Regions from separate parts of the Homo sapiens genome. Here region 2 is linked to region 1. Evidence: fine-mapped expression QTL. A gene starts in region 1. The other region holds a variant in brackets. All regions are shown on one strand. Distances are from middle to middle. Region 1 holds the start of TPRG1L (tumor protein p63 regulated 1 like). Region 2 overlaps WRAP73 (WD repeat containing, antisense to TP73).

Region 1 (5,374 bases):
AAGAGACCCACCTGGAGAAGGTCGTGTGAAGATGGAGGCAGGGATGGGAGCAGTGCATGAGCAAGCCCAGGACACCAAGCAGGCCTGGCAGAGCAAGACATGCGTCAACCCTCAGGGCTGCAGAGGGAGCATGGCCCTGCACACTCCTTGATTTTGCACTTCTGGCCTCCAGGGCTATGAGGAAACACGTTTCTGTTGTTTTTAAAACAGTTGTTGTTTTTAAAACCAGTTTGTGATGCATTGTGACAGAAGCCCCAGGAAACTCATCCATACTGAGTGAAATTTGTTTATTGTCTAAAATACAGTCCCTCCATCATCTATCCCTCCTATCATTTCTGGAATTTATAGACATCCAAGTCACTCCCCATATCCACAGAAGGCTCAGGCACCTGGTTCAGAATCCTCATTGTCCTGCCAGCTCCCACCAGCAGTCTGCAGCCTCGGCCCCAGCCAGTGTCACTTCATCCCATTCCCTGGACATCTGGTTCCAGGACCACAGCTCCATCCTTGGCGTGGTCCAGAACTTGCTCCTACCTCTCTCCCCCATTCTCCCTCTTTCTCCCCCCCATTCTCTCTCCCTCTCTTTCTCATTCTCCCTTCTCCTCCCTCTTTCTCCCTCCCTCTCTCTGGAATCTCTGGTTCCAGTTGCCCATCACTGACTACAGCTTGCAGCTGTCCAGGTATTTCTCATCTACATCCACTCAGCTCCCTCCCGGCCTCTGTTCTTCCTCCCTCAGGGGTATTCTCCCACTCACCAGCACCTGTTGGATCCGCGGCCATTTCTAACCGGACTGGATACTTGGACCTCAAGGTCCCCGCTGGTAAGATAGCTGGGAGACACTCGTCTGTAGGTCCCTCTGGCAGGTCTTGCTGGGCGTGCCAAGAACACATTGCCCTGACCACTCTTTTCTGGGCCATTTCTCACGCCTGTGCTTGCAGTGGGCACCCTTGCCGGGGAGACAGCCTCCCTGTGGGACAAAGACCACATTGGTCCACAGGATCCAGGGTCCTGTTTTGTAGTGCACCCGCTGTGGTGCAACATGCGTCTGGGCACACCAGCGTCGCCCGTTTCCTGTTGTAGTCTTTCCTCTCTGACTCCAGGGGTATTGGGTCTTTCTGCCAGCGCCCATGCAACTTTGGCAGCCTGGCCTGTCTGCTGGCAAGTGGGGCAGAATCCCTGCACTCCACCATTCTTGGGCAACACTCCCTCTAGGATTTTGGCCTCCCTTTTCTCTCTGGTCTTTGACCACCGCTACCCAGCAAACTCCTCCATCTAGACCAGCCAGCATTGGTTTCTTCCACTCCCCCAGCTGCCGCGTGGGAGGCGCCACTGCAAACTTCCCTGGGGTCTCCCAGCTGCTCAGAGATCCCCATGCCCTTCCCTGATCAGCTCCCTGCCCGGTTCTCATCCCGGCGATTCTAAACCGTCCATCTTTACAAATACTCCGCTCCATCCCCACTCCCTGACTGAAGTAAACAGATGTATCCTGAACTCCTCATTCTCCCCCCATCTCACTCTCCTCGCCTGTGTGCACCTCGCCTCGTGTGTCTTCCTCACCTCCGAGCAGAGGGATCTGTCCTCCTGCCCGAAGGTAACCCTGACCCCTGGACTCTGCGCCTCCTTCCCGCAGCCTCCACCAGATTGCGGGTCCGTTCACCGCCCCCCTCCACACGCGCTGGGGGCACCTCCGGGAGCTGGGGCTAGCGCAGGGCACACACATGTTCCACCTCGAACTGCGAGCGCTGACCGGGATCTCTGGGCAGCCCTCTCTGTGTGCACTGGCTTGCTGAAGGCTCGCGACAGCCTGGGCCCGGGCGCGCATTCCAGCACTTTCTACCCTCCGGCTTCAGAGTGCATTGCTCTGTGGATCCGTCACGAATAAGCCGTGTGTGAAGAACGCCAGGTCCCGGCAGAAGATCGCTGCCCGGCGTGCGAACTCCCCCACGGTGCACCAGGGCCGCCGCCCTGCATCCTCCAACCTCAGCTCCCCGGCACCGCGACCCTCCGTGCAGTGCGAGCCCCCGATGGGCGCGCGCCCCCACCTGCGCTCCAGAAGGCCGAAGGGGGCATCCCACTTGCAGGGCGGGTCACCCGCTTTCCCCGCGGGCCAAGGGGCTCCAAGATTCCCAGCCCCTCCTTCCCAGCCGCTCCGCGACACCCTGGCAACCGGCTTCGGCCCCGCCCCTTCTCGTTGTGTAAACAGGAAGTGAGCCTGCGCGTGACGGTCGCTTCCGGCCCGGCGAGGGGCGGGAGCGATTGTGAACGGCGGCGGGGCAGAGCCAATCGCGGAAAACGGCAGGAGGAGAGCCAATCCCGAGGGTCGGCGGACGCGGGAAGGGGCGGAGCCAGAGGCGGGGCCGGCAAGGCGGAGCCAATCGCGGCGGTCCGCGGGGCGGGGCCGGGGGCGCGGCCGGGTGGTGGCGGTGGCTGCGGCGACGGCGGTCGCGTCGGCGTCAGGGTCGGGGTCGGTAAGGGGTGCGGCAATGCTGCAACTGCGGGACTCGGTGGACTCGGCCGGTACGAGCCCCACGGCGGTGCTGGCGGCCGGCGAGGAGGTGGGGGCAGGCGGCGGCCCGGGCGGGGGGCGGCCGGGGGCGGGGACGCCGCTGCGCCAGACACTCTGGCCTCTCAGCATCCACGACCCCACGCGCCGCGCCCGCGTCAAGGAGTACTTCGTGTTCCGGGTGAGGCAGGGGCCAGGGCCGGGGCGGGGGCCGAGGGCGCGGGGCGGGATGGGGGCGGGTGGGGTCGGAGGCGGGCGCCGGGCGGTCCCGCAGGGAGCGAGCTGTGACCTGTGATCTTTGCCCCCGTCCCCCACCCCGCAACCCGCCCAGCCCGGCAGCATCGAGCAGGCAGTGGAGGAGATCCGCGTGGTGGTGCGGCCCGTGGAGGACGGCGAGATCCAGGGAGTGTGGCTGCTTACCGAGTAAGCCGGGGCTGCGCTCTCCTTGGTGGGGGGACTCGCCCCGAGCCGCCGCGCAGCACCTTGCGAGGACTTCCCGGGGTGCTCGTGCCACGCTCAGGCGCCCCGTGCCGCCCCTGCTGCCCTTCCAGGCGGGCTGGCCTTGGCTAAGTCGAGACAGCCGCGTCCAGTGTGGACTGAGGCCCCTCCTCTGCCTACAGGGTGGATCACTGGAACAATGAGAAGGAGCGGCTGGTGCTGGTCACGGAGCAGTCCCTGCTTATCTGTAAATACGACTTCATCAGTCTCCAGTGCCAGCAGGTGGTGCGGATAGCGCTCAACGCAGTAGACACCATTTCCTACGGAGAATTCCAGTTTCCCCCTAAATCGCTCAACAAGTAAGCCTGTTCAGAGTCCAGTATCACTGGACCTAAGCACCAGAGTGGACCTTACAATTCAGCCCTTTTAAATCAGCCCCCCAAGCGGTGTGTCTTCTCTGTCATTAATTATAAGCACAAAGGCTCCAGCTCCAAATATCAATGGGAAGTTCCTTAAAAAGAAGCGACTTCTGGGCAATTGAGTGCATTAAAAGGAATTCTGGCACAGAAGGCAGCTATTAGGCTGGTAGTAAAAAGACTTACATGAGTTCAGGATGCATTGAAGTAGAGCCCAGCGTGTTAAAAAGGAACTTGGATGTTCTTCAGGAAAAGTCCAAACTCTGCATTTTTCTCCAGCCAGGGACAGATTGCATATGACACATCAAGTCTTGCTCTGGCTAATTTTTTAAAGAGAAATGGAGGGTCCCGTTGTAATTTATAGATACCACTAAAAGACAAATTTGGAAATATTTAATGACCAGCTTTCAGGAGTTGATCTTTTTGCTGTAGGATAATTTTCTGACGTGAGGAACCTAAACATTACTACAGTCAGTTAAGCTGTAGAACTTGGGTTTTTGATGGAGAGATTTGGATGGGGGATTCAGGAAGCTAAAATAAAAATTTTACCTTTTGGTTAAAACATTTAATATGACATAAGGAAAAGGAAGATTACACTTCCTTTTCACTCATTTGGCTAGCCTATCTATAATTATTCCCTTTTTTTTTTTTTTTTGAGACGGAGTCCCACTCTGTCACCCAGGCACCAGTGGTGCAGTCTTGGTTCACTGCATCCTCCACCTCCTAGGCTTAAGTGATCCTCTCACCTCAGCCTCCCAAGTAGCTAGGACTACAGGTGCCCGCCACCACACCCAGCTAATTTTTGTATTTTTTGTAGAGATGGGGTTTTGCTAGGTTGCCCAGGCTGTTCTCAAACTCCTGGGCTCAAGAGATCCGCCCATTTTGGCCTCCCAAAGCGCTGGGATTATAGATGTCAGCCACCGTGCCCAGCCAGTATTCCTGTTTATTAATTTTTAATCATGTAAAGATTACCAAAATAATACATTTAATAACCAAAATATACCTAATTTGTCATATTTATACCCACAGTATTTAAAGCAATTGTTAGTGGAGATTGAAGTTACTACTAAAAACCACAGGCCGGCCAGGCACGGTGGCTCACGCCTGTAATCCCAGCACCTTGGGAGGCTGAGGCGGGCGGATCACCTGAGGTCAGGAGTTTGAGACCAGCCTGACCAAAATGGATAAACCCTGTCTCTACTAAAAATACAAAATTAGCTGGGTGTGGTGGTGCATGCCTGTAATCCCAGCTACTCCGGAGGCTGAGTTGGGAGAATCGCTTGAACCCAGGAGGTGGAGGATGCAGCGAGCCAACATCAGGCCACTACACTCAAGCCTGGGCAACAAGAGCAAAACTCCATCTCAAAAAATAAAAATAAATAAAAACAAAAATAAAAACTACAAGCCGTTTTCCATTGTGATATGTCATAGGTCTTTTCTGTAAACGTGTGCTTTTTGCTGTCATATTCTCCTAACTGATGAGACTGTCAGATTGTCCATGAGAGCACTGTGGCCTGCCATGCTAAGTCTGGCTATTTCTTCTGACTTTTCAGGCGAGAAGGTTTTGGGATTCGAATTCAGTGGGACAAGCAAAGTCGTCCTTCCTTCATAAACAGATGGAATCCCTGGTCTACCAACGTGCCCTATGCCACTTTCACAGAACACCCGATGGCTGGCGCAGATGAGAAGACAGCATCTCTGTGTCAGGTAAGAAGACAGGCACATAAATAGCCGCGCCCCCCGCAGTGATGGAAACACCCCCCGCAGTCACGGAGACACTTCAGGTCTGCACTGTCCGGCGGCCACGCGGAGCTGCCGAGCACTTGAGACGTGGCTAGAAATGAGAGAGGAAGCTCTCATTTTAGAGTTGATTCCCTAAGTTGTCAGAAATTCTGGTTAATTTATGTTAAAGTAGCCGCATGTGGCCAGTGGCTGCTGGTTAGCATAGCTCCATAATGTGGCCTCCTGATGGTGATCTGGGTGGGGAAGGGCCCCAGCTGGGCTTCAGAGAGTGGC
Region 2 (5,374 bases), 21 kb after region 1:
CCCCGCTGAGCCCCGGACATGGGGTCGCGCCTTCGGAAGGGGACCCAGCGGCCCCGCTGAGCCCCGGACATGGGGTCGCGCCTTCGGAAGGGGACCCAGCGGCCCCGCTGAGCCCCGGACATGGGGTCGCGCCTTCGGAAGGGGACCCAGCGGCCCCGCTGAGCCCCGGACATGGGGTCGCGCCTTCGGAAGGGGACCCAGCGGCCCCGCTGAGCCCCGGACATGGGGTCGCGCCTTCGGAAGGGGACCCAGCGGCCCCGCTGAGCCCCGGACATGGGGTCGCGCCTTCGGAAGGGGACCCAGCGGCCCCGCTGAGCCCCGGACATGGGGTCGCGCCTTCGGAAGGGGACCCAGCGGCCCCGCTGAGCCCCGGACATGGGGTCGCGCCTTCGGAAGGGGACCCAGCGGCCCCGCTGAGCCCCGGACATGGGGTCGCGCCTTCGGAAGGGGATCCAGTGGCCCCGCTGAGCCCCGGACATGGGGTCGCGCCTTCAGAAGGGGACCTAGTGGCCCCGCTAATCCTCGAACGGGTCTGGTCCTTGCTCTTGTGAATGAGACTGATGGACGGTGCCCGCAGCTCACTTCCTGGCCAGCACGTCTGGAATTCCGGTTTTGTTTCCTCACTTGCAACCATTAAAGTTCGCATGCAAAGCTGGAGACACATTTTGACATCTTGGTCAAGATGCCCCATGCCTTGAGGTTACCGGTCCTCATCCACCACCTGGTCTTAACGTTTCCTCTAAGGCCACCAGCAAAGTGGTCATGACCTTAGTCTTAGGTTGAACAATGTCATCTAAATGTACTCTATGAAAAATCAGTTTGTTCTGTAGCAAAGGTGTTTTCAATATTGGTGTGTGTGACATGGGATGCTCAACAAAACCAGGCTTTTATCCATCTTTTAAGGTTTCTAAACTCTATAGATGGTAGTTTTCCTTCTGGGCCATTTAATAAGATAATACAACAAGGCTGACCCCATGACATGAGCCCTTCTCAAGGGCAGATTTGGGCCCAAAGCATTACAGGCCTGAAGACTGTTAGACACGGCTGCGTGAAAAGCTCAAATTATCCTCTCTGAAACACTCAGGCCGAAAGTGCCTTCCAATGTCAATACATAGTGCGGAGACATTGGTGGGCCTTTGTTTCCTGTCTTATTCTCTGACAGCCCATAATAGCAGACATTAGATTTGGAGTATTTTTTAAAATCGAAACTGAAAAATATGTAAAGCCATCCAGCCATCTGAAGCAGTTGATTCAGCAACCCTCATGGCTGGATAAAACTTTATCCCAGCCGATGCCAGCTTGAAAAAAGCCGAATGAAACCCTACAGAGCATCTGCAGCCACACGCTGGGAGAAATCCTCCCAGGTGCCATCATCTACGTGGTGTGCGCGGCGCAGCGGGACGGGAGGGCTGCAGTGTGGTGTGAGCGGCGCAGCGGGATGGGCGGGTTGCCCCGTGGTGTGCGTGGCGCAGCGGGACGGGCGGGTTGCCCCGTGGTGTGCGCGGCGCAGCGGGACGGGCGGGTTGCCCCGTGGTGTGCGCCGTGCAGCGGGACGGGCGGGTTGCCCCGTGGTGTGCGCGGCGCAGCGGGATGGGCGGGTTGCCCCGTGGTGTGCGCGGCGCAGCGGGATGGGCGGGTTACCGAGGTGCAGCCAGCAGCCCAGACAGCTATGAGCACTCAGTGGACTTGGGCCCAAACACTGGGATCCAACTCCATCAGAAAAGCACATTATTAAAGGAATTCGTCCATTTTTCTGTATCTTAAAAAGACACTGCGGACACCAAAGACCTGGTATCTAAACACTTGACATATGCCTAATTTTAACTTAAAATGCAGTCTCCTATCCCAGATCCCTCTGATTTATTCTCGGATGTCAACATTCCCCTCCGCGCTGAGCTCAGCACGGAGGCTGTTGTGCGGTACCTACAGCAGGTGAATGGGCGGCTGCCGACCGCCCCGAGCCACGCCCCCAGGCCAGGCTCCTGAAGGAAAGGTGCGAGCCGGCTCATATCACAGCGCATTTTCTATCGTTGAATTAAAGGGAGTGCCGAAATCCTAAAAAATCTAAATTAAGATTTTTAAAATGTTTTTTCTTCAAAACTGGACAAAAGATCAGACAATAATACTTAGTGGCTTATAATGCTCTGACCTAAAATATACACACCACTATATACGCTCCCCGGCTCCCTCCAACCCCGCCAATCTACCAGCCACTCGGGAGCCACCTCAGTCATCAGACCCAGGGCAGCAGACAGTGCCTGTGTTCACGACACCCTTATCTGACTCAGTAGCAGCCCAAAGCACGGGCGGTGGGGCTCGCAATCTGGATACGCCAAAGAGAAGCCACAAAGTGCTTCCTTTAAATGACGAGCTGAAAGTTCTTGACGCAACAAGGAAAGAAAAAATCCTATGCTGAGGTTGTTGCTCAGATCTTCAGTAAGACCAAATCTTCTATCCATGCAATTATAAACAGTATATTGTTATCCTTGTTCTATACTATGATTGTTGCTAATCTCTTACTGTATCTAATTTATAAATTAAATGTATCACAGGTATGCTGTATAGGAAAAAACACAGGAAATACAGGGTTTGGTACAATCTGAATCCCCTGGTGGTCTTAGAATGCATCCCCTGAGGATAAGGGGAGACTAGCATACTCCAAACACACCCCCTCTCGCACTCCCCAGCTGTTTCGAGAGCAGAGGACAGGATCACATGGCCAGTAAGGTGTCTTGGGGCTGACACTTACATGGAATTCCGTGGTGTTGAGAATGTGGCGCCCGTCCGGGCTCCAGCACGAGGCCACCAGCCCGGCTGAGCCCTCGTCTATTTTGCAGTGCCATTCGGGCTGCTCTAAAGACCAGACCTGGATTGAGAGAAGAAAGAAACACACAAGTGCAAACTCATCAGCACCGAGAGACAGCGAGGACAGCTCGCTTAAACGCAG[C/T]GGAGACCCGACCGCACAGGGTGTCTTCAAACTCATCAGCAGTCTATAGCGAGGCCTCGCCGAGAGACAACTCCCTTAAAACCAGCAGAGACCCGATCACACAGGGTGTCTTTTAGAACCTTTCATGATGAAGGGCTGGTGCTGGATTCCAGTGTAAAAGTAAGCCACGCTTCTTGGTGATTTCATTTCGTTGTTGTTTTAAAACTGTTTATTCACATTGTCATTCCTAAGACCTCATTTAGTTAAGCTTTGGACACAGAAGAAAACACGACTTCTTAGGACTTCCTGAAACACACCACATCCGCGTGGCTAGATTGCTGTCAACACCTCCGTTTCTCAACTATATTGCTTAGAAATTAAGACTACGTTGGAGTTTCCTTAGTTTAAATGTTCTTAAACTTTAGAGAACGTTATAATTTCAAAAGAAAACTGGCTTTGAGCTGCACGGACTTTTTTTTCAAACTAGAAAGGCACAGAACAAAACCCCTCCTTCCCAGGGGCCCTCAGAAGGTGTCCAGATTCTAAGCGACACGGCAGCACACACCTGCACCAGCCCTCGCTTGTACATGGCGCACAGGATGAAGAGCGAGTCTGCCGACCACTCGATGTGCTGGATCTGGTCTAGGCACGTGTACAGCTGAAGGATCTGAAGGGTGTTCACATCCCGGACCACTAACCGGTACTGGACACAGGAAGCCTAAAAAATATGAGAAAGCAAGCACCTGACATTCTCCACTCCAAAAGAGGGGGGCCTTCGGAATGCTACTGCCCTGGCCTTCAGTGACTGTGGCCTTCTCTCCTGCCAGAGGTTTCATGTCTAGATCACCAGTGACATCCCCAGCCCCTAAAGATCAGTTCAGTTCATACAAGGGTAATGTTGAAATATACAAGCCAGGTTTTAATATTGCTATACTCTATTGTAAAGTATAAAAGTATGTTTTAACTCGCTACTTAAAGCTTTAAGACATTTTTAAGTCCCTTCTTATCTGTATGTTAAAAACTAAACTTAAATGGGAAGTAGCATTGGGAGAAAGCTCTTCTGTGAACTAATAACCAAAATCCTCTGCTAGTTTTATAAACACTTTTGGACAATTTCCTCAAATTTATAAAGGGTAAGAATTGAGGCTTCACAGATGACAACGAAAATGGCAAGGAATGCATCAATCTTCTTATGCAGTGCCGAACTCAGAGCCAAAACAACAGAAGATCAAAAGACAGGCTTTCACTTCTGCACACATAAAGATGCTTCGCAAATGCTCATTTATCTCCATTAACCTATTCCTAACACGAAACGGGAAATGTTTAAGTGTTAGTACTATTTTCTTAAAGATAGTTTCTTCTTGTCCATATTTGTTCATTATGTCCCTATCCAAGCAAACAATTTCAAGTAAAAATAACGCCTGAGTACTCACCTGCTGAATGTATATTTTACTACAGTTTCAAGATCAAGAACTGATGTTTAAATATTAACTGCTTCGTTAGTTTTACTTATCAAGGTCAAAGTAGTTTGTGTTTTATGAACCGATATCAAAAAAGAAAGCCACGTTAGTTTTCCGTGGGAGAAAAGAGAGACAGGCGGGTGACGGCAGATTGGAACAAGGAGCTACCACAGCACTTACTTTCTCACACTGTAGCTTTGAAAACTGTGATCAGTTACAGTGAATTCCTTATGAAATGGAATATTTTTACCAACACCTTGAGGAACCACATAAACTCTACTGCAAGATATGAAAACTAGAAACATGGACCTGCTCTCCCCAGTCCTCAGGGCTTTCAAGAAGATGATTCCAGTAACAGATCATTACCAAGTGTTTCAGGGTATTTTGACCAGAGTGTACAAGCTGGAAAAAAACACCCAAGTTAAGCAAGCAGATGTAATCTTTCTCCTTATAATTCACTGAAATTTTCATAAATGGTAAAAACAAAAAACAAACCTCTCATTTAATTGAGGAGGGGGGCACATTGAAAATATACCAAGGCTGAGATGCCATTTAAACTAATGAGGTTTTCTGTTTTGTAGCTGATGCTATTTTATGTGATTTGGAATAAAACCTCCCTGAAGAGGTAAAAAACGTAATTTGAGAGTTAAACTCTCAAAAGCTAGACAGAGCACAGGAATGTCAGGAGTGGCAAAACCTGAAAAAGCATCATGATACATCAGTCAGTTAGTACAGGTGGTGGATAAGGAAAACGAAGCCCACTTTTTACGAGGCATGTTTCTTCTTAGTGGCTTTCCAATGCCAATTGTCCCCCTCTTCTGAGGACATACATACTAGGCATCCGGGTTATCCCTCTCTTCTGAGGATATACACTACTAGGCATCCAGGTACATACACTATATGTTTTGAAGCTTAAAGTTATAGCTCTGTGATTTAAGCACCCTTCTGCCACCCATGGAACGAAGACCTCAAATCCCAGCCATGAGGA

The links. PIP is the estimated chance that this variant, and not a neighbour inherited with it, causes the effect.
Region 2: its variant is the best candidate, but not a certain one, in a credible set for the expression of TPRG1L in whole blood (TOPMed, PIP 0.51).

Annotation. Positions count from the first base shown.
Region 1 is chr1:3,622,589-3,627,962 of GRCh38, forward strand. TPRG1L (tumor protein p63 regulated 1 like) reads left to right here and starts at 2,427. Exons shown (of 5, transcript NM_182752.4): 1 at 2,427-2,685; 2 at 2,836-2,927; 3 at 3,125-3,301; 4 at 4,912-5,065. The coding sequence starts at 2,485. It also overlaps a transcript of MEGF6 not described here. RefSeq lists enhancers at 1,701-1,820, 2,801-3,463 and a silencer at 2,271-2,500.
Region 2 is chr1:3,643,917-3,649,290 of GRCh38, forward strand. It overlaps WRAP73 (WD repeat containing, antisense to TP73), which reads right to left. Exons shown (of 12, transcript NM_017818.4): 2 at 3,492-3,644; 3 at 2,750-2,866. Among named protein-coding and RNA genes, the nearest start is that of WRAP73, 3.5 kb to the right of the region's middle. The variant C/T (reference allele first, on the strand shown) is at 2,948.